7 linked regions of the Homo sapiens genome follow. The protein of the gene in region 1 interacts with the protein of each later gene in a biochemical or structural test. Each region holds a gene or a part of one and is shown in the gene's direction. Other genes may lie near its edges.

The links.
Region 2: of the proteins of MAPK14 (region 1) and EPS15, one has a biochemical effect on the other in vitro, tested with the Homo sapiens proteins (one study listed by BioGRID).
Region 3: the proteins of MAPK14 (region 1) and ARHGAP9 are reported together in a solved structure, tested with the Homo sapiens proteins (one study listed by BioGRID).
Region 4: the proteins of MAPK14 (region 1) and CDC25A form a complex in vitro, tested with the Homo sapiens proteins (one study listed by BioGRID).
Region 5: the proteins of MAPK14 (region 1) and NUP153 form a complex in vitro, tested with the Homo sapiens proteins (one study listed by IntAct).
Region 6: of the proteins of MAPK14 (region 1) and LIMK1, one has a biochemical effect on the other in vitro, tested with the Homo sapiens proteins (one study listed by BioGRID and IntAct).
Region 7: the proteins of MAPK14 (region 1) and DUSP16 form a complex in vitro, tested with the Homo sapiens proteins (one study listed by BioGRID).

Annotation. Positions count from the first base shown.
Region 1 is NC_000006.12:36,034,308-36,037,807, forward strand, and holds part of MAPK14 (mitogen-activated protein kinase 14), read left to right. Parts: intron 1-3,500. UniProt on the Homo sapiens protein: Serine/threonine kinase which acts as an essential component of the MAP kinase signal transduction pathway.
Region 2 is NC_000001.11:51,400,767-51,404,266, reverse strand, and holds part of EPS15 (epidermal growth factor receptor substrate 15), read left to right. Parts: intron 1-734; coding exon 735-848; intron 849-1,741; coding exon 1,742-1,832; intron 1,833-3,313; coding exon 3,314-3,349; intron 3,350-3,500. UniProt on the Homo sapiens protein: Involved in cell growth regulation. May be involved in the regulation of mitogenic signals and control of cell proliferation. Involved in the internalization of ligand-inducible receptors of the receptor tyrosine kinase (RTK) type, in particular EGFR.
Region 3 is NC_000012.12:57,471,769-57,474,317, reverse strand, and holds the end of ARHGAP9 (rho GTPase-activating protein 9), read left to right. Parts: intron 1-141; coding exon 142-276; intron 277-609; coding exon 610-715; intron 716-1,629; coding exon 1,630-1,801; 3' UTR 1,802-2,049; downstream 2,050-2,549. Other genes in the region: zinc finger protein GLI1, read right to left, coding at 2,257-2,549. UniProt on the Homo sapiens protein: GTPase activator for the Rho-type GTPases by converting them to an inactive GDP-bound state. Has a substantial GAP activity toward CDC42 and RAC1 and less toward RHOA. Has a role in regulating adhesion of hematopoietic cells to the extracellular matrix.
Region 4 is NC_000003.12:48,160,918-48,164,417, reverse strand, and holds part of CDC25A (M-phase inducer phosphatase 1), read left to right. Parts: coding exon 1-111; intron 112-3,500. UniProt on the Homo sapiens protein: Tyrosine protein phosphatase which functions as a dosage-dependent inducer of mitotic progression. Directly dephosphorylates CDK1 and stimulates its kinase activity. Also dephosphorylates CDK2 in complex with cyclin-E, in vitro.
Region 5 is NC_000006.12:17,614,537-17,617,231, reverse strand, and holds the end of NUP153 (nuclear pore complex protein Nup153), read left to right. Parts: intron 1-536; coding exon 537-705; intron 706-1,050; coding exon 1,051-1,135; 3' UTR 1,136-2,195; downstream 2,196-2,695. UniProt on the Homo sapiens protein: Component of the nuclear pore complex (NPC), a complex required for the trafficking across the nuclear envelope. Functions as a scaffolding element in the nuclear phase of the NPC essential for normal nucleocytoplasmic transport of proteins and mRNAs.
Region 6 is NC_000007.14:74,118,304-74,121,803, forward strand, and holds part of LIMK1 (LIM domain kinase 1), read left to right. Parts: intron 1-2,279; coding exon 2,280-2,335; intron 2,336-2,588; coding exon 2,589-2,746; intron 2,747-2,835; coding exon 2,836-2,998; 3' UTR 2,999-3,500. UniProt on the Homo sapiens protein: Serine/threonine-protein kinase that plays an essential role in the regulation of actin filament dynamics. Acts downstream of several Rho family GTPase signal transduction pathways.
Region 7 is NC_000012.12:12,479,364-12,482,863, reverse strand, and holds part of DUSP16 (dual specificity protein phosphatase 16), read left to right. Parts: intron 1-2,517; coding exon 2,518-2,641; intron 2,642-3,500. UniProt on the Homo sapiens protein: Dual specificity protein phosphatase involved in the inactivation of MAP kinases. Dephosphorylates MAPK10 bound to ARRB2.

The DNA of each region.
Region 1 (3,500 bases):
AATTCCTGAATTTATGAATCCTATTGGATTGAAATTCTTCAGTGTACATTTATGTAAAGTTGGGACTGTCTGTACATGTTTGTGTTACATAAGTATAGGATATAAATAGAAATAACTGCCTCTCCAGCCCTTTGAAAATACATTAGATTTTTGCTTTTTGCAGTAAAATTTGGGGTAAAACTGATTTGTTCTTATCTAAGAGGTATAATTACTGCAGTGCTCAGAAAAGCCTCATTATAAAGTGGGCTCCCCTGACTTGGAACTTAGGGATGTCTTCTCATGGCTGCTATGGAAGTCATGCAGCTGTTTCGTCAGGAAAATAACCAAAAACTTCTTTAAACTTGGAAATGTTTTTGTAAAAGAAACTTTCAGTATTCAGAGTAGTTTGTCTTTCACAGTGCTTCCATAAATTAAGCACAGGCACAACTCGTTTTATTATGCTTCACAGATAATTGCTTTTTTTTTGCAAATTGAAGGTTAGTGACAACCCTGTGGTAAGCGAGTCTTTTGGCACCATTTTTCCAAAAGCATGTGCTCACTTCATGTCTCTGTGTCACATTTTGGTAATTCTCGCAATATTTCTTTCTTTCTTTTTTTTTTTTTTTTTTTGAGACGGAGTTCTGCTCTGTCGCCCAGACTGGAGTGCCATGGTGCGATCTCGGCTCACTGCAACCTCCGCCTTCCGGTTTCAAGTGATTCTCCTGCCTCAGCCTCCCAAGTAGCTGGGACTACAGGCATGTGCCACCACACCTGGCTAATTTTTGTATTTTTAGTAGAGATGGGGTTTCACCATGTTGGTCAGGCTGGTCTCGAACTCCTGACCTTGTGATCTGCCTGCCTTGGCCTCCCAAAGTGCTGGGATTACAGGTGTGAGCCACCATGCCCGGCAGTTCTGCTGGGATTACAGGTGTGAGCCACTGTGCCCGGCAGTTCTCGCAATATTTCAAACTTTCTCATTATTATTAAATATTATGGGGATCTGAGATCACTGATCTTTGATGTTGCTGTTGTAATTGTTTTGAGGTGTCTGGAACCATGCCCATAGGCAGACTTAATTGATAAACATTGTGTGTGTTCTGACTGCTCTGCCAACCAGCTGTTCCCTCTCTCCATCTCCTAAGGCGTCCTTATTCCCTGAGACACAATAATACTGAAATTAGGCCAATTAATAACACTACAGTGGTTTCTGAATGTTCAAGTGAAAGGAATGTTTGCATGTCTCTTACTTTAAATCAAAAGCTAGAAATGATTAAGCATAGTGAGGAAGGCATGTCGAAAACTGAGATAAGCTGAAAGCTAGGCTTCTTGTACCAAACAGCCAATTTGTGAATGCAAATGAAAAGTTTTTGAAGGAAATTAAAAATTATATTCCAGTAAACAAATGAATGATTAGAAAGCAACACAGCCTTGTTGCTGAGCTGGAGAAAGTTTTAGTGGTCTGGATAAAAGATCAGACCAACCACAACATGCCCTTAAGTCAAAGCCTAATCTAGAGCAAAGCCCTAACTCTCTTTAATTGTATGAAGTTTGAGACAGGTGAGAAAGCTGCAAAAGATAAGTTTGAAGCTAGCAGAGGGTGGTTCATAGGTTTAAGGAAAGAACCTGTCTCCATAGCATAACTTATAGTGCAAGGTGGCTGGGGGCGGTGGCTAACACCTGTAATTTCAGCACTTTGGGAGGCTGAGGCAGGCAGATCATCTGAGGTCAGGAGTTTGAGACCAGCCTGGCCAACATGGCGAAACTCTGCCTCTAGAAAAAATACAAAAATTTGTTTTTTATATTTTTTGGTGTTGTGGTGTACACCTATAGTCCCAGCTGCTTGGGAGGCTGAGGCAGGAGAATTGCTTGAACCTGGGAAGTGGAGGTTGCAGTGAGCCACTGCAACCAAGTGGCAACCGAGATCGTGCCACTGCACTCCAGCCTGGGCGATAGAGCAAGAGTACATCTCAAAAAAAAAAAAAAAAAATCAATAGATGAGAAATTGCTTCTCAGGAATGAATAAATAAAGTAGTTTCTTGAGGTGGAATCTGCTGTTGGGGAAGATGCTTATGAACATTGTTGAAATGACAACAAAGGGTTTAGAATATTACATAAACTTAGTTGATAAAGCAGCAGCAAGGTTTGAGAGGATTGACTCCCATTTTGAAAGTAGTTCTACTGTGGGTAAAATGCTATCAAACACCATTGCAGGCTACAGAGAAATCTATCACGAAAGGAAGAATAAATCAATGCAGCAATTCACCGTTGTCTTATTTTTAGAAATTGCCATAGTCATTCCAGTCTTCAGCAGTTATCACCCTGAGTAGTCAGCAGCCATCACCCTGAGTAGGCAGCAGCCATCAACACTGAGACAAGACCCTCCACCAGCAAGAAGATAATAACTTGCTGAAGGCTCAGGTGACCCTTAGCATTTTTTAGCAAAAAAATATTTATTTATTTATTTATTTTTTCTAGATGGAGTCTCGCTCTGTTGCCCAGCCTGGAGTGCAGTGGCACGATCTTGGCTCACTGCACCCTCCACCTCCCAGGTTCAAGCAATTCTCCCACCTTAGCCTCCCGAGTAGCTGGGATTACAGGTGTGCACCACCATGCCCAGCCAATTTTTGTATTTTTAATAGAGATGGGGTTTCACCATGTTGGCTAGGCTGGTCTCAAACTCTTGACCTCAAGCGATCCTCCTGCCTCGGCCTCCCAAAGTGCTGAGAGTAATAGGTATGAGCCACTGTGCCCGGCTAATAAAATATTTTTAAATTAAGGTATGTGCATATATATATTTTTTTGACATACTGCTAGTGCATACTTAATAGACTACAGTATCATGTAAATATAACTTTTATATGCACTGGGAAACCAAAAAATTTATGTCACTCATTTTTTTGTGATATTCACTGTGTTGTGGTTGTCTGGAACTGAACTCATGATATCTTTGAGGTACACCTGTATGTATGTGTTAAGGATTTACAAAATTAACCAGCTTTCCCGTGCAGTGTTCAAGTCTTTTAATAATTTATTATAGGGAAGAAGAAGTGGTGGTTTGTAAATTCTGTACTTGACAAATGGATACTGGGTTTTGGGCATGCTTGGCTCCAAGGCTGAATGTTGGGGGAAAGAAGTATAGGAGAGTGAGGAGTCTAGGATTTCTAAGTTTTGGCCTTGGGCAAATGGATATATTTTAGTGCCATTTTCTGAACTTTGTGTTACAAAGTTACAAAAGAGTGTTACAGGGTACAAGATTGTAGAGAGAAAGGGGAAGGAGCATAGGTTCATGGTAATCTCCTTGAGGACAGGACTCATTATACCTTGAGTGCCTACCATGTATGGTTTGCCGTAAGTGCTGGAGATGAAATGTGAACAAAAGAGACAAAAATTTCTGCCTTAAGAAGCTATATTCTGGCCAGGTGCAGTGAGTGGCTCACACCTGTAATTCCTGCACTTTGGGAGGCCAAGGTAGGTTTCCTTGAGCCCAGTAGTTAGAAACCAGCATCCTGGGAAAAATGGGG
Region 2 (3,500 bases), on another chromosome or scaffold:
TTAAGCTATTCTCCTGCCTCAGCCTCCCGAGTAGCTGGGACTACAGGCGTGTGCCACCACACCTGGCTAATTTTTTGCATTTTTAGTAGAGACGGGGTTTCACCGTGTTAGCCAGGAAGGTCTCGATCTCCTGACCTTGTGATCTGCCTGCCTCGGCCTCCCAAAGTGCTGGGATTACAGGTGTGAGCCACTGCATCCGGCCTGCCCCTACTACTTCTTAAGTCTTTCACCCACTCGTCTAAATGAAGAAGACAATGGGAAGCCATTGAAGGACTTTTAACCAGAAGGGTCACGATCACATCCACATTTTAGAGCTATTAGTTTGGCTACAATAAGGAGAAGAGATTGGAAATACATGTATTGGAGGCAGGAAAGCAGTTGGAAGGAAGACTGCTATAGTAATTGGAACCAAAGATGATAGTACTATAAGTGATTGATAGTGACAGTGAGGATGGAGAAGAAGGCAAGGATTTGAAAAAGAGGTAAGAGGTAGACTGAGCAAGACTTGGAGTCATATTCTGAGGATTAAAGATGACCTGAAGGTTTCTGACATGAGTGACTTTGATGCTTGATGACACCATTTCCCTAAAAAAGATTATAGAAGGAGAAGTTATTTGATGAATACATTCTGCTTGTCTTTTTTTATTTTTAAATAGTTTTTGGTTATCTTTAGTCAGTTTTCTCTGCCATGTCAAAAAGTATATTGTTAATCTACTTGCATTAATATTTTGTAGGCAAGAAGTAGTCCTGAACTACTGCCTTCTGGTGTGACTGATGAAAATGAGGTGACTACAGCTGTTACTGAAAAAGTTTGTTCTGAACTCGACAATAATAGACATTCAAAAGAGGTAAAAAATGATTTTATATTTACATTGGGGACTTGTAAGGGTGGAAGGACAGGAGGAGGTGAATTATCAGACATTACTTAATGGGTACAATATACATTATTCAGATGATAGATACATCAAAAGCCCCGACTTCACCTTTAGGCAATATAGCCATGTAACAAAATTCCACTTGTGCCCCTTGAATTTATACATATAAAATAAATAAATGTTCTTAATAGCTGGATGTGGTGGCAAGTGCCTGTAGTCCCAGCTACTCAGGAGGTGAAGTAGGTGGATTGCTTGAGCCTGAGTTGGAGGCACTAGGCAACATAGAGGGACCTAATCTCTAAAAATTAAATGATATTTTAAAAAAATGTCCTTATCACTGTTTTCCTCAGATGAATTATACACTATTTTAGGTGAAGGAAAGAGAAAAATATGTTAAGGTGAAGGAAAGAGAAAAATGTGTTAAAGGTGCTTTATGACTAGAGAGATATTTGTTACATTACCATCAGTTGATTTTCCTTTTGTTTTCAAGACCAAGTCTCACTCTGTCACCCAGCCTTGAGTGCAGTAGTGTGATCTTGGCTCACTGCAACCTCCACCTCCCAGGTTCAAGCAATTCTCCTGCCTCAGCCTCCTGAGTAGCTGCACATGCCCAGCTAATTTTTGTGTTTTTGGTAGAGACGGGGTTTCACCATTTTGGCCAGGATGGTCTCTATCTCTTGACCTTGTGATCTGCCCACGTCAGCCTCCCAAAGTGCTGGGATTACAGGTGTGAGCCACCGTGCCTGGCCCATCAGTTGATTTTTCAAAGCATGTGTATGACCTGAATGTGTGTTATTTTATTTTAAAATGTTACCTTTTAAAACTTTGGTTTCTAAAAAATAATTTTAATTTAAAATTATTTTTAGGAAGATCCATTTAATGTAGACTCAAGTTCGCTGACAGGTCCAGTTGCAGATACAAACTTGGATTTTTTCCAGTCTGATCCTTTTGTTGGCAGTAAGTACTCTTTTTTTTATATTATAGATTTACCCAAAAAAAAGACTTTTTAATATATAAACTAAGGATTCAAGGCTTCAGTTTCAATAGCCTACCAACTCAGTCTGTCGCCCAGGCTGGAGTGCAGTGGCACGATCTCGGCTCACTGCAACCTCCGCCTCCTGGGTTCAAGCGATTCTCCTGTCTCAGCCTCTTGAGTAGCTGAGACTACAGGCGCCCACCACCACACCCAGCTAATTTTATGTATGTATGTATGTATGTATGTGTGTATTTATTTATTTATGTAATTAATTTATTTAGAAATGGAGTCTCGCTCTGTCGCCAGGCTGGAGTGCAGTGGCACAATCTCGGCTCACTGCAACTTCTGCCTCCCGGATTCAAGCTAATCTCCTGCCTCAGCCTCCTGAGTAGTTGGGATTGCAGGTGCCTGCCACCACACCCAGCTAACTTTTGTGTTTTTAGTAGAGGCGGGGTTTCACCATGTTGGCCAGGATGGTCTCCATCTCTTGACCTCGTGATCCGCCCACGTTGGCCTCCCAAAGTGCTGGGATTACAGGCGTGAGCCACCGCGTCTGGCCTAATTTTTGTATTTTTAGTAGAGACTGGGTTTCACCATTTTGACCAGGCTGGTCTTGAACTCCTGATGTAAGGTGATCCGCCTGCCTCGGCCTTCTAAAGTGCTGGGATTACAGGTGTGAGCCACTGCGCCTGGCCTGCTTTGTATTTTCCTACTGACTAATGTTGAACATCTTTCTAGATGCTTATTAGCCATTTGTGTATCTTCTTTGGAAAAGTGTTTATTCAATTTTGGTGAAGTCCAGTTATCTATTTTTTCTTCTGTCACTTGTGCTTTTGGTGTCATCTAAGAAACTATTACCTAAGTCGCAAAGATTTAATGCTGTCTTTGTCTAAGAGTTTTATAGTTTTGCTGTTACAGTTAGATCTTTGATCCATTTTGAGTTTATTTTTGTATATGATGTGAGATAGAGGTCGAGCTTCATTCTTTTGCAAGTGGATATCCAGTTGTCCTAACACCATTTGTTGAAAAGACTGTCCTTTCTCCATTTTGTGTTCTTGATACGCTTGTCAAAAATCAAATGACCATAAAGGTAAGGATTTATTTCTGGACTCTTCAATCCTGTAAGAATTTTTTTTTTTTTGCTTCAGTAAAGCTCAGTACCTTTATTTCTGAACTGGTGATGATAATACCCTCCCAGTACTCTTGTGGAGAGTAGAGATTTTGTTAGTAAAATTTTTGCTGTAATGTCTTCCCCTCCATCCGTAACCTCAACTTGTGATCAAGGTAAGTATAGTTGGCTGTATATTTCATAAGGTCAATGACATTCCTTATTTTATCTACTGTGAAGTGAAGTTATTGAAATAAACTTTGCTTTGCTTTTGTTTGAAAGTTACTCTTTAAGTAGTGGTGTCACCACAGTAAATATTGTTATTTGGATTTCTTTGTGTTTATTTTATCACAGGTGATCCTTTCAAGGATGATCCTTTTGGAAAAATCGGTCAGTATCTTATTGAGTTTCATCTTAGCTTTCATTCATTTCTGCTTAATAATAAGCTTATGTTATTTAGGTCTGAAACTGAAGCCCCAGTAAGATGCTCTATGTGCCTGGCATTTTCAGAAAGAGAGTAGTAAATTCTTTTGATTTTGCT
Region 3 (2,549 bases), on another chromosome or scaffold:
ACCTTAGCTACCTTGCCCCACTGCAGACCCTCTAGGCATTCCTATAGTCTGCTTTGACTGGATTTCTCCAGAACTTCTAATCTCTCAGTCTCTAAATCTTTCTGGCCCTTCATGAGCCCCTATACCTCCTTCTCCCTCCAGAAGGTCGGTTAGATTTGGACAGTACTGAGTGGGATGACATTCATGTGGTCACCGGAGCCCTGAAGCTTTTTCTCCGGGAGCTGCCCCAGCCTCTGGTGCCACCACTGCTGCTGCCCCATTTCCGTGCTGCCCTTGGTAAGGGTTGGAGCTTTGGAAAGAACCCTTGATGTGGGGGACACGGGTGGTAAATAATAGAATAGAGGTTCCCTTATACTCTTCTTTCCCATTCTGACTTTAGAGATGGAAAATAATGTTCAACTCAGGTGCCTACTCCAGTTGCTTTTTTGTGAATGTTTAGAGGGCTGAATTGAAAAGAATTATGAGGCTATAGTTGGGCTATGTGAAAAAGAAAGCTGTGCTAGATTAATGATGTCTTCCATGCCTGTGGGAAAGAGCAGTGCATTTACCCATCCTGTCCTAGCACCTTCCCTAACCTTACTACCATGCCTTTCCCATCACTCTCTCTAGCACTCTCCGAATCAGAGCAGTGCCTCTCTCAGATACAAGAATTAATAGGCTCAATGCCAAAGCCCAACCATGACACTCTACGGTACCTCCTGGAGCATTTATGCAGGTCAGGAAGACAGAACCTCTTTGTTCATGCTGGGGAAAGGTGGAGTGGGGAATGCCACAGGGACTCTGTGCAGGTGGAGTGAAGGTAGGGAAGCACCTAAGTTTAATGGGCAGGTGAGGAAGCAGGCAACCTCTGTGCAGGAGCATATTACCAGAGTCAAAACCTTTATTTTTTTATTTTATTTATTTTTGAGACAGAGTCTCGCTCTGTCACCCAGACTGGAGTGCAGTGGCGCAATTTCAGCTCACTGCAACCTCTGCCTCCCGGGTTCAAGTAATTCTCCTGCCTCAGCCTCCTGAGTAACTGGGATTACAGGTGCCCGCCACCACGCCTGGCTAATTTTTGTATTTTTAGTAGAGACGGGGTTTCACCATGTTGGCCAGGCTGGTCTCGAACTCCTGACCTCAGGTGATTTACCCACCTCAGCCTCCCAAAGTGCTGGGATTACACCGTGCCCGTCAAAGACTTTAGGTCAAAACCTAAAGGTCAGCATCAAGTGGGGAAATGGAACCAAGATGCTGTGAAAGGAATAAGGGAAATCTTACTTCTCCCTTCCCTCTGCCTCTTTGTCTCCCATTGGGACATTGCTGATGGCTTCTTTGGTTGAACTGGGCCTGGGCAGTGACTTCTGAGAGAGGATGGCCACTTGAATTAAAGACTCCCAAACTGTGAGCAGGCAGAACTCTTGGGGCAGCCCCTGAAGTCGGAAGAGGCAGTTATATCTTCAGGTTGTATCCTGAAGGTTTCTCCACTGGTCCATCTCCATTCTCCTTGTATCTCCTTGGTTTTTTTGTTACCATGTGGAGGAATCCCAGAGTGAACTCTTCCCTGCTCAGAACTTTGAAGGGTTAGTTAGATTGCTATGAAGTGGCAAGCTGCTGCCATATATCCCCTTCCTTGGCCTTTGCTTACAGGGTGATAGCACACTCAGATAAGAATCGCATGACACCCCACAACCTGGGAATTGTGTTTGGACCAACCCTGTTTCGGCCAGAGCAGGAGACATCTGACCCAGCAGCCCATGCTCTCTACCCAGGGCAGCTGGTCCAGCTGATGCTCACCAACTTCACCAGCCTCTTCCCCTGATGCAGGGAAGGAAGAAGAGAAAACATATTTCCGGTCATCTCTGGTGGTGAGAGGCTGGTGTTCTGTTTTGAGGATATCCCTTTAAATCTCCCAAATGACTGTCTCTATCTTCATGAGTGTGACTTGAGGTGTTGGGATGGGTGAGGGAGCTTCTCTAAAGAGGAAAGTGAGTGGATTAACCCCTGCTTCTCTTCTTGTTCCCTGTTATCATTCCTCCCCAACATAATAATACATAAAGTGGCATGGTATTTTTTCTGATGCAGTTCCTTTATTATCAGGAAACAGTGTCATTATCAAATTTCTCCTCAAAACGTATACAGACTATACATAGCCCCCAGCCCATACCTCCCATCCCTGGGGCATCTTGTGCATGGGACTGCAGCTCCCCCAATTTTTCTGGAAGGATAGAAACCCCTTAGGAAATGCGATCTGTGATGGATGAGATTCCCTACTCTTTAGGCACTAGAGTTGAGGAATTCTGTTTCCCCAGGTAGGGATCTCAGTAAGACACTCATGTTGCCCACAGCCATGTTGGGGGGCCCAGAGGGAGGTGGGGTATGTCCAGAGCTGCCCCGCTGATCATGGGAAGGAGGAGGACTCAGCCCCTGGGGCTCATCCAGAATAGCCACAAAGTCCAGCTGAGTGTTGTCAAGATCAAGAGAGTCCAGGGGGTTACATACCTGTCCTTCGGGAGGAGGGTACAAGGCAGGACCCCCTCCTAGCCTGCCCACCTCAGGATGACCACAGC
Region 4 (3,500 bases), on another chromosome or scaffold:
GGAAGAAGAGGTTGAAGACTTCTTATTGAAGAAGCCCATTGTACCTACTGATGGCAAGCGTGTCATTGTTGTGTTTCACTGCGAGTTTTCTTCTGAGAGAGGTCCCCGCATGTGAGTGCTGCACGGAACTGGGTTCTGGGGCACAGGCTCCATGATGCTTTTGTGGGACATGGTGGTTTGTGGCTTGCACTTGGAGCATATTTTAGCATATCAAGCAACCTCTGGCACATAACAAGCCATTTTCATATGTAATTTTATCCTGAGGTGAACTTTGGCTCTTCCAGTCTCCCCGACTGTCCTTAGTCTGATCTGTGGGGCTACTGTTCTCATGTGACCTCCTTCAAGTACAAAGTGACCGTTCCTTATGCAAATGCCAGAAAAGTGTGAAGTTCTCATTCTGTAAAACCTCATATGATATGATGCTTTGAAACACTTGATATTATTACCAATTTCAGGGTGAAAAGAAAAAAGGGGGCCAAAGAGCTGCCCATCAGTCATCTGTGTCCATTCTAAAAGGATTGCAAGCCTGCTGTTTGTCAGGCACTGACAATAAAAATGTAACTACAGTAAAACACAGTACAGTAAAAATACCACAGCGAGCAGGACCAACAAGGACCCTACTGCAGCAGAGATCCAAGTGGGGATCCGTATAAATGCTAGGAGGACAGGCAGAGAGGTAGGACAGAGAGTGCAGCTTAACTAGGATGGTCCAAGGGAGACTTCTGCAGGACCACGTTCTTATGCCACCTTTTTATTTTGAACCAATTTATTTTAAAAAACATTTTTAAATTAAAAAATTTCAATTTTTTTTTTTTGACGGAGTTTTGCTCTTGTTGCCCAGGCTGGAGTGCAGTGGCACAATCTCTTCTCACTGCAACCTCTGCCTCCCAGGTTCAAGCAGTTCTCCTGCCTCAGCCTCCCAAGTAGCTGGGATTACAGGCATGCGCCATCACGCCCGGCTAATTTTGTATTTTTAGTAGAGGCAGGGTTTCTACATGTTGGTCAGGCTGGTCTTGAACTCCCGACCTTAGGTGATCCGCCTGCCTCAGCCTCCCAAAGTAGTGGGATTACAGGCGTGAGCCACTGCACCTGGCTTTTTCTTTCTTTCTTTCTTTCTTTTTTTTTTTTTTTTTTGAGGCGGAGGCACACTGTTTTCACCCAGACTGGAATGCAGTGGCATGATCTCGGCTCACTGCAACCTCCACCTCCTGGGTTCAAGCGATTCTCCTGCCTCAGCCTCCTGAGTAGCTGGGATAACAGGCGTGCACCACCACACCCGGCTAATTTTTGTATTTGTAGTAGAGATGGGGGTTTCACCATGTTGGCCGGGCTGGTCTTGAACTCCTGACCTCAGGTGATCCACCCGCCTTGACCTCCCAAAGTGCTGGGATTACAGGTGTGAGCCACCACGCCCAGCAGAAATTTCAAATTTTGAGATGGGGTCTTAATATATTGGCCAGGTTGGTCTCAAACTCCTGGCCTCAAGCAATCCTCTCTCCTTGGCCTCCAAAGTGCTAGGATTGCAGGCATGAGCCACTGTGCCCACCCCTTTGAACCTTTTTTTTTTTTTGAGACGGAGTCTCGCTCTGTCACCCAGGCTGGAGTGCAGTGGCACAATCTCGACTTACTGCAAGCTCCGCCTCCTGGGTTCATGCCATTCTCCTGCCTCAGCCTCCCGAGTAGCTGGGACTACAGGTGCCCACCATCACGCCTGGCTAATTTTTTTGTATTTTTAGTAGAGACAGGGTTTCACCATTTTAGCCAGGATGGTCTCCATCTCCTGACCTTGCGATCTGCCCGTCTCGGCCTCCCAAAGTGCTTGGATTACAGGCGTGAGCCACTGCGCCTGACCTGAACCATTTTAAAGCTCAAGAAGAGGTGAGGTTATGGCTGGGCACAGTGGCACCTGTAATCCCAACACTTTGGGAGGCCGAGGCAGGAGGATCACTTGCTCGGGAGTTTCAGACCAGACCAACCTGGGTAACACAGTGGGACCACACCTCTACAAAAAATAGGAGGTGGGAGGATCGTTTGAGCCCAGCAGGTCGAGGCTGTGGTGAGCCATGATCATGCCACTGTACTCCAGCCTAGGTGACAGAGTGAGATTCTGTCTCTCTCTCACACACACACACACACACACACACACACACAAAGGTTATACTTGCACACACTTCACCTGATTTTATTAATTTTTAACATTTTGTCACATTTGTATGTACATGCTCTACACACAGGCAACTACAGTACAACTTGACACTTTTGACTGTCATCTCATAAGTCCTTCAAACATCTGTCTCCAAAGGATGCTCATTCATGAATGGAATTATTCACTCAGCAGTTTTTTTGTTTGTTTGTTTGAGATGTAGTCTTGCTCTGCCACCCAGACTGGAGTGCAGTGGTGCGATCTCGGATCACTGCAACCTCCACCTCCCGGGTTCAAGCAATTCTCCTGCCTCAGGCTCCCAAGTAGCTGGGACTACGGGTGCATGCCACCATGCCAAGCTAATGTTTGTATTTTTAGTAGAGACGGGGTTTTGCTACATTGGCCAGGCTGGTCTCGAACTCCTGACCTCAAGTGATCTACCCGCCTCAGCCTCCCAAAGTGCTGGGATTATAGGCCTGAAACAAACTAATCTGGACACACATACACACACATGTAAATTGTTTTTAAACCCACAAAAGATGCTGCTCTCTTTTTTTTTTATTTTTGAGTCAGGGTCAGTCTCTGTTGTCCAGGCTGGAGTACAGTGGCAGGAGCACAGCTCACTGTAGCCTCTGCCTCCCAGGCTCAAGTGATTCTCCCACCTCAGCCTCCCAGGAAGCTAGGACCACAAACATGCATCACCATGCCTGGCTAATTTTTGTATTTTTTATAGAGACAGGGTCTCACTGTGTTGCCCAGGCTGGTCTCAAACTCCTGGGCTCAGGCAATCCTGGCCTCCCAAAGTGCTTGGATTACAGGTGTGAGCCGCCATGCCCAGCCCAAAAGATGCTATTCTCTTAATCTCTCATTTCCCCATCTTCCTCTTTAACACCTCTAATATAAAGGACATTATTATACCATATTGAAACTTCACCTAGATATACAGAAAACGCCCCATCTCTGTATTCTGTATTTGCAAGCTGCATGTTTATATCACCATCTACAGATACCCCTTACACTTCGTTCCCCACTTGAGTTTCGCCATCACTGGCTTTCTGTTGTTCCACTGGGGAAAGATTTGGGATTCACAGGTGAACTCTTTTTTTTTTTTTTTTTTTTTTTTGAGTTGGAATCTCGCCCTTTCGCCCAGGCTGGAATGCAGTGGCACAATCTCGGCTCACTGCAGCCTCCTCCTCCCGGGTTCAAGCATTTCTCTGCCTCAGCCTCCCAAGTAGCTGGGATTACAGGCACCTGCCACCACGCCCAGCTAATTTTTTGTAGTTTTAGTAGACACAGGGTTTCACTATCTTGGCCAGGCTGGTCTCGAACTCCTGACCTCGTGATCCACCGCCTCAGC
Region 5 (2,695 bases), about 18 Mb from region 1:
CCAGGGTGCCCTTTTCCCCTTGGTCATAGGTAAGTTGTGTGATTTGTTGGAGGTGTCAAGTATGTACTATGTGTCAGTGGAGAAAATAGTTTTCTTTAGATTAAAAGACCAGAATATTTTAATTCTTTGCATGTTTTTATATGTAAAGGTCAGAGTCTTTAATTTAAAAACCTATCATGTTGCGGCCGGGTGCAGTGGCTTACGCCTGTAATCCAGCACTTTGGGAGGCCGAGGTGGACAGATCACAAGGTCAGGAGATCGAGACCATCCTGGCCAACATGGTGAAACCACGTCTCTACTAAAATACAAAAAATTAGCCAGGCATGGTGGCACGCACCTATATAGTCCCAGCTACTGGGGAGGCTGAGGCAGGGGAATCACTTGAACCCAGGAGGCAAGGGTTGCAGTGAGCCAAGATTGTGCCACTGTACTCCAGCCTGGGCAAGAGAGCGAGACTCCGTCTCAAAAAACAAACAAACAAACAAAAAAACCTATCATTTTGCCCTAATGAAGTATTTCTGCTTTAACTATTGCAGGTTCGGCTTTCCAGTTTGGCAGCAGCACTACAAATTTCAACTTCACAAACAACAGTCCATCAGGAGTGTTCACATTTGGTGCAAATTCTAGCACACCTGCAGCCTCAGCCCAGCCTTCAGGCTCGGGGGGCTTTCCATTTAACCAGTCTCCAGCAGCATTTACAGTGGGGTAAGAGAATTTTTTATTGAAATGGAGAAGTTACATTGGTAAGGGTATGTGCATGTATATGTTTTGTTTTTAAAAGTCATCAAGATTCCGTATGGTTTGGGTAAAATTAAATATGTTCTCCAACATAAATTTACCATACTATAATTCTGGAGGATTATATTACAGTTTGAGAAAAAAATAACAGTAGCGTGTGTGTTAGGTGTAGCAGAAAATGTATATACCAATGTGAGTCTACTCCCCCCCCACCCGACCCCCCTTACCCTTGTGCTGCTCATGGTAAATGTTAGCATTTGGAAATTTTGCTCAGAGCATCATGTCACATTATGAAGTTTTTATTTTTCACAGGTCAAATGGGAAAAATGTGTTCTCTTCTTCTGGAACTTCATTCTCTGGTCGCAAGATAAAGACTGCTGTTAGACGCAGGAAATAAAGGTCACATTGGTGTTGTACTCAATTTTAACAACAGCTGGTGCCCTGCTTTCAGATACTGGATTGTACTTTGTGCTGGGGTTATCTGAAGTCAGATCTGCCTAAGGACTTCTTTAATTTTGGAATTTTCCTCCTTTCTCTTTCGTTACAGAAGCCCCACCCTGCCTCACCCACCCTTTTTTAAATAAATAAATAGCTAGACTGGTGACTGATTCTTCAGCAAAAATATTTTATGATCCAGCAGATTATTCACTGATTTGACATAGTCTGGCTGTACCCAGGAATGGAGCCTGCACGGTGAATGGCTTTGTATAGAACCTCTTTGTCTACACCATTATGTGCGCTGATAAGCGTTCATGGAACGCGTTGAAATTGTAATTATATCTGAGGAATTCTGTATAGATTAGAATTCTGTATAGATTAGAGAGTGTTGAAACGGATGATTTCTATGCTGAGTTTGTGCTGGTGTATGTGTGAAGTGAGTGAGTTGGGTGTATTGTGCGCTAAACTTTTCTGATAGAGGAAGCCTGATTAAAGAATGGTCCGTGCTAAGGACTTGTTAGATCTAGTTCACTCTCCATTTAATAATTATATGCTATTTCTATATTTTCATTCTCCTATCACCTGTCTTGCCTTTTTCATTATTTTATTATGAAACTTGTGTAAATACAATTTTGTTTCTGTACTTTTTGGCATAACATAAATCTGTGAACTTGAAATTTGAATTTTGTGTTAGAGATTTTTTTGTTGTTTGTTTAGTCTTGTCTCAGATTTTATTATGTAAATCCCATTATTCAAAGTTGCCTAAATCCATTTGGAAATCTTTAAAAAAAAAATTGGGGATTCTTAAAGTTGAATTTATTGGCTTTTCTGATCCAGTTTTGTTTGGACCAAAAACCAGTATTGTACAAAGTATTAAGCATATATTTTTATATTTACTAAAATGGACTGTGGTGACTTTGGATAATAAGGAAAAGTTTAATATTAAAGCCATGTTTATTACAGTATAATTAACATGTTAAACCATGGGATAAATGCCATCAATAAAAAATTATGACATACTTTTTGTTCTAGTTTTACCTCATAATGAAGGCACACAGTATTATTGGGGGGACTTTGTAAAATAAAGATTAACAGTGTCTCATTAGAAGAATACATTGACATGATTTAGACAACTCCTAAGAGAAAGGGAAAGTATCTGAAAGTATCTGAATGCACAACATATAGAAGGTACCCTACTTCTTGCCTGGTGCTAGGAATCATGCCTAATTTGCATATCGACTTAGGTACCTTTTTTAAAAGTTGAAAATACACACATTCATTTCTCTTTGTGCTTCTATCTTCCTTGGTAAGTTACTGGATAGTGTTTATTAAAGTTCTTGGAAATACATACACAAAAACTACAGTTGTCTCTTGGTGTGTGCAGGAGATTGTTCCCAGAACTGCACTCCCCCCCCCCCCCAGTTCTCCCGCCCCCAAACCACAATCCACAAATTTCAGCAGTGGACCCTGCAGAACCTGAGTATACCAAAAGCCAGCCCTCCGAATGTGCAGGTTTTAT
Region 6 (3,500 bases), on another chromosome or scaffold:
GAGGCGGAGCTTGCAGTGAGCCGAGATCGCACCACTGTACTCCAGCCTGACGACAGAGTGGGACTCTGTGTCAAACACACACACACACACACACACACACACACACACACACACACACACACAGAGTTAACATAGCCCGCAAAGAAGACTATAAAACAGTCTTAGTGGCCGGGCGCAGTGGTTCACGCTTGTAATCCCAGCACTTTGGGAGGCCGAGGCAGGTGGATCATGAGGTCAGGAGTTTGAGACCAGCCTGGCCAACACAGTGAAACCCCATCTCTACTAAAAATACAAAAATTAGCTGGACATGGTTTCGGGCGCCCGTAATCCCAGCTACTCAGGAGGCTGAGGCAGGAGAGTTGCTTGAACCCAGGAGGCAGAGGCAGGAGAGTTGCTTGAACCCAGGAGGCAGAGGTTGCAGTGGGCGACAGAGCAAGACTCTGTCTCAAAAAACAAAAAAGTCTTAGTGTTTCCTATGTTTAGGGATTAGTGTGAGGATTAAAGGTTGTAAACTCATTTCCACCTAGTTGGCATTCAGTAAATGAGAATTGACATTTAGTACTAATTGTTTCGGGTATTTTGTTTTTTGTTTTTTGTTTTTTGTTTTTTCTGAGACCGAGTCTTGCTCTGTCATCCAGGCTAGAATGCATGGTGCGATCTCGGCTCACTGCAAGCTCCGCCTCCCGGGTTCACACCATTCTCCTGCCTCAGCCTCCCACGTAGCTGGGACTACAGGCGCCCGCCACCACGCCTGGCTAATTTTTTGTATTTTTAGTAGAGACGGGGTTTCACCATGATCTCGATCTCCTGACCTCGTGATCCACCCGCCTCAGCCTCCCAAAGTGCTGGGATTACAGGTGTGAGCCACCGTGCCCGGCCAGTTTTTTGTTTTTGAGATGGAGTCTTGCATTGTCACCCAGGCTGGAGTACAGTGGCGTGATCTCGGCTCACTGCAACCTCCACCTCCTGGGTTCAAGTGATTCTCCTGCCTCAGTTTCCCTAGTAGCTGGGATTACAGGCACCTGCCACCATGCCTGGCTAATTTTTCTATTTTTAGTAGAGATGGGGTTTCACCATGTTGGCCAGGCTGATCTTGAACTCCTGACCTCAGGTGATCCACCCGCCTCGGCCTCCCAAAGTGCTGGGATTACAGGTGTGAACCACTGTGCCCGGCCATGTACCGATTATTTTTAACATCATTAAGTAGCTGGTATCATTCCCATTTTACAATAAGGAAACTGAGGCTCAGAGAGTCTGTGTCAGTTTCCTGAGGTTGCTGTAATAAATTGTTAGAAACTTGATTATTTAAAACAGCAGAAAATGGTCAGGCACAGTGGCTCACACCTGTAATCCCAGCACTTTGGGAGGCCGAGGCGGGCAGATCACTGGAGGTCAGGAGTTCGAGACCAGCCTGGCCAACATGGTGAAACACCATCTCTACTAAAAGTACAAAAATTAGCTGGGCATGGTGGCAGGCGCCTGTAATCCCAGCTACTCGGGAAATTGAGGCAGGAGAATCGCTTGAACCCAGGAGGCAGAGGTTGCAGTGAGCCACAATCGTACCACTGCACTCTTGCCTGGACAACAAAGCAAGACTCCATCTCAAGATAAAATAAACAGCAGAAATTTATTCCCTCTTAGTTTTGGAAGCCAGAAGGTTGAAATCCAACAGGGCTGCGCTCCCTCCAGGGCGATCTAGGGGAGAATGCATTCCTTGCCTCTTCCACCTTCTGGTTGTTTTGCATTCCTGGGCTTGTGGCCGCATCACTCCAGTCTCCACCCCTGTCTTCACAGGGCCACCTCCTCCTCTTCTGCTGTGTCTTCTCTGTGTCTCTCTCAAGAGGGCATTTGCAGTGGCATTTGGGGCCCACCCAGATCATCCAGCATCATCTCATCTCCAGATCCTTAACTTAATCCCATCTGCAAAAGACCCTTTTTCTGACCCAGTAACATTCACAGATTCCAGAGACCTGACATGGTTCCCTTTTGGGACCAGCACAGAGTTCATGACTTGTGCAAAGTCACGCAGCTGATCGGTGCCTCGAACTCCTTGTCCAGGGCTCTGCCCCTTGCTCCTCAGAGCTCCCAAAGGCTTGCTCAGACCTGGTGGGGTTGGGGGAAAGAGCCTAAGCCTGGGTTCCCATAGAGGTTGCCGGCATCTGCCTCCTGGGCCTGGACCTCCCGGCCGGGGCATCCTCCCAGCTGGCCTGGTCCCCTGCCTTTTGGCATCCCTGGCACCCCCATGTGTTCATCTGCTGACAGTCGGTCTCTTTATCCAGGCCGCAGCTATGATGAGAAGGTGGATGTGTTCTCCTTTGGGATCGTCCTGTGCGAGGTAGGTCCAGGGTTGGGTAGCAGCGGTGTTGAGGCCTGGGCTCCTCCCCACTCACCCAGGCTGCAGGCTCAGCATCTGCAGGGGCCTCATGCCAGGAAGCCTGCCCACAGCAAGGCATGGGCTGGCCCCCATGGGGTACTGCAGTCAGGCTGCAGCCAGGCCCAGTGCCACCTGCCCTCAAACCACCTGGATGGCACCCAGATGCCCAGGCTGAGGGCCCCCTGGAGTAACTGCCGGGCCTTGTACTGGACAGATCATCGGGCGGGTGAACGCAGACCCTGACTACCTGCCCCGCACCATGGACTTTGGCCTCAACGTGCGAGGATTCCTGGACCGCTACTGCCCCCCAAACTGCCCCCCGAGCTTCTTCCCCATCACCGTGCGCTGTTGCGATCTGGACCCCGAGAAGAGGTGAGTGGGGTGGGGCCCTGGCCTGGGAGACGGTGGGGCCGATTCCCGGGACAGCCAGACCCACCGTTCCCCACCCACCTGTCACCCAGGCCATCCTTTGTGAAGCTGGAACACTGGCTGGAGACCCTCCGCATGCACCTGGCCGGCCACCTGCCACTGGGCCCACAGCTGGAGCAGCTGGACAGAGGTTTCTGGGAGACCTACCGGCGCGGCGAGAGCGGACTGCCTGCCCACCCTGAGGTCCCCGACTGAGCCAGGGCCACTCAGCTGCCCCTGTCCCCACCTCTGGAGAATCCACCCCCACCAGATTCCTCCGCGGGAGGTGGCCCTCAGCTGGGACAGTGGGGACCCAGGCTTCTCCTCAGAGCCAGGCCCTGACTTGCCTTCTCCCACCCCGTGGACCGCTTCCCCTGCCTTCTCTCTGCCGTGGCCCAGAGCCGGCCCAGCTGCACACACACACCATGCTCTCGCCCTGCTGTAACCTCTGTCTTGGCAGGGCTGTCCCCTCTTGCTTCTCCTTGCATGAGCTGGAGGGCCTGTGTGAGTTACGCCCCTTTCCACACGCCGCTGCCCCAGCAACCCTGTTCACGCTCCACCTGTCTGGTCCATAGCTCCCTGGAGGCTGGGCCAGGAGGCAGCCTCCGAACCATGCCCCATATAACGCTTGGGTGCGTGGGAGGGCGCACATCAGGGCAGAGGCCAAGTTCCAGGTGTCTGTGTTCCCAGGAACCAAATGGGGAGTCTGGGGCCCGTT
Region 7 (3,500 bases), on another chromosome or scaffold:
TGGTGTGCACCTGTAGTCCTAGCTGGGAGGCTGAGGCAGGAGGATCGCTTGAGCCTAGGAGCTCACAGTTACAGTGAGCTATGTTTGCACTATGGCACTCCAGCCTGGATGAACAGAGTGAGACCCTGTCTGAAAAAACAAATGTAGCCCTTAGCCTAACATTCCCACCACCCTCAAACACCTGCTTCCCACCTTTGAAACCTTCTCAAACCTTCTCTCTGGTTTCTTCTCCAAGGCAGGCTGTTTTCGAATGAGCACTTTGCTCAGTCCCACTGCAGGGCTTTCTCGCACACATTTCCCTTCTCCTCTCTGCCAGTTGTGTGTGTTAAATTAATTCCTTTGCTTGAAGACACAGTTTAGGGCTCATGTCTCCCAAGATGCATGCTGGTGAACCTCAACTCCAGTATAGTCACTTGTTTTTTTCATTTTTAAAAGACGTCATCAAAAGAGTTGTGGTTATAAAAACAGTTGTAAGCACATTGCAGAAAATTTGAAAAACAGAGAAAAGGAAACCTATAACCTCAACATCGTAACGCATGTTACTGTCATTGTTTTATTTCCTTCCAGCCTTCTTCTTTTTTTATTAAAATCTCTTTTGAAAATATGTATCAGCCAGTATCAGCTGGATGCCTACCATGTGCCTAGCGTTAAGTCTTTTGGGGGATTGTTAGAAGCAAGCAAGATCCTTCTAGGTCCTTATAATCTAGGTTTTGAGATAGATAATTATTAAAATTAATGAGAGAGTATTGTCAACATTAAAAAACAAAAACCCAGACTCCTTCCAGTAAGGATTTGAAGCAGTTTTCAATAATAGGTTAGAACCAAAAGATACACATATTCTCACACATACACATTATAATGGTATAAAGGAGCAATAATCAAGTAATAGGGGCTAGGAAATGTACAGTAACTGACAAAAAGTCTGAATTGCTACTTCTTATTGAAATTGAGTAGAAACCTTAGCTTTGAGCTTCTTAGCAGTAGGGCAGAAAGGGAAGGAAACACTGAGAGTAACGTGGGGTAAATGATAGCTGAGAAGGAAGGGGATGCTGGAGGCACAGGAAGGCATGAGACTGTGTACACGAGTTTATATGTTCTTACTTGTATAGCATGCAATTCTTTGTTTGAGTGTTGCTTGGTATTCATTTGTTAGTGTTTTATTGTGTTTGGTTTCCTGATCTAGAAGGGAAGCTGCTTGCTGCTTAATTATTCATATGCTACCCAAAACCTGTATGTTGCTTTATATATGATGAATAATTATGTTATATATAATAATCATTACACTAGAAACTTATATTTATAGCATAGGCAGTGAGATTGAATAGCTTTGTATTATTCAGCTGCCAAAGTAAGATTCTTTGCGCATCTGTTAATCGCAAGAATTTTAACACAAGGTTCAGTAGACTTTTGGTAGTATCTACCAAGAATGAAAAGGGGAGAATTCAGCTTCATGACTGAGCACACATGTAATTATTTAGAATTGAGGCAGTCATGGAACTGGCCAGAATGTTAGTAGCTTCCAGGCTGTGTGGAATAACCTCGTCCCCTGCCACATGTACATATTGTTAAGCCCCTCAGCAGTGAGAGATGGCAGCACTGCTTGGATTTCCTTGGTTCTTTGGTTCTAACAAAGTGTCCGTGAGTCCTTCCATCATGTTGTGGGGAATTGAGATAATGCCATAAGACAATAACTCCTGGTATCAAGGAAGGGATAAAAGTTCTCTTGGATCTCATTAAAGTGACCTGCTAAACCTGATTCATAGCCTATACAAGGTTTTCTTCTAAAACTCAGTAAATAAAGTTGAGCCATTTTATGACATACAGAAAAGTTGCTTAAAATAGGGAGGCCAGGGGCAGTGGCTCACTCCTGTAATCCCAGCACTTTGGGAGGCTGAGGTGGACGGATCACTTGAGGCCAGGAGTTAGAGACCAGCCTGCCCAACATGGTGAAACCGCAACTCCACTAAAAATAGAAAAATTAGCCAGGCGTGGTGCTGCACACCTGTAATCCCAGCTACTCTGGAGGCTAAGGCAGGAGAATCACTTGAATCCGGGAGGCGGAGATTGCAATGAGCCGACATCGTGCACTCCAGCCTGGGCGACAGAGCAAGACTCTATCTCAAAATAGTAATAATGATTTTAAAAAATGTAATTATATTTCTTAGGTAATCAGGGAAAAATTTGAAGTGTCAGATAACAGGAATATATTAAATATTACCCATATCTTAGGGGAAAATACTAACATAAGTCAGGAAACCTGAGTTAGTAGTAGCTTGCTTATTAACGAATTGCTTATTAACAAACAGTTTTGGACCCCAGTTGTCCTGCATGTCAGTGGTGAGGGAATTATCTTCCCCTGCCTCCTCAAAAGAATATTGCGAGGATAAATATGATATACACAGATGAGATTTGCGTAGAGGTTTTCAGGTGGAAGACACTGAGTAAGTAAATGGAAACAAGATTTCACTGCTGAACAAAATAGTTAGTAGTGACCTTTCTTGCATTTGACTTATACAGAGAAAGCAAAAGCCTCCAATGGATGTGTTCTAGTGCACTGTTTAGCTGGGATCTCCCGCTCCGCCACCATCGCTATCGCCTACATCATGAAGAGGATGGACATGTCTTTAGATGAAGCTTACAGGTGAGGGCAGGAAAATGTCTTCTGTGATTGGCTTTTCATTTGACCTGAAACATAAAGAATGATGAGGATGGGTAACCAAATTAAAGCAGATCATGATTATTTTAGTCACATTTTTTACAGGTTACTGTGGATTTTTTAATGGTCTTGTGAAGATTGGAAAAGAATGCTGTTTTACTATTTAGCATTAATTCTGCCTTCACATGTGTCAGACTCATCCTCAGCCACTTTTTATGTTTAAGGAACAACAGATCCAGGCAGAGATCTCTATCCTGTTACATGAGTTTATTGCTTTCCCTAAATGCAAAAGTATCCTTTGTTTTAATTTGCATATGATGGGGGGAAGCTCTAATAGAATGCTCACTGCAGAATCTCTGTTCTGCTTCAAACTTTGGATTGCTGGGAAGAAAAAGCCTCATAAATGCAAATATGAACCAGATTAACTGTCAGACTCCATTCTTCAGTAAAATTTCCTACATTCTAGAGTCGGCCAGATTGTGTGTGTGTGATTTTGACTGGGTTGCCTCCAGTCTCTGATTTGTCTGACTCCCCTGCATGTATCGTTGGGTAGAGATGGTTCATTTTTATCTGATAAGGAATCAAAAATATAGAGACTCATGGAGCAGGCCTGATTTAACAGTTGGATTTTTTTTTTCTCAAATTGCAAAGTTTGGAAAACAGAAATGAGCTGCCCAAACAGCTTCCCATGTTAAGTCAGCAGCCTGGAGGACGTGGGTCCTCTGGTCATCTGCACGAGCTCTCATGCCGCCGTTCAGACCTCCCTGAGGTCCTCCTGCTCCATGTAGAAATCAGAAGAAAAGGCACCCTTCTATCACGTTATGAAGTCTCATTATGAGCACCC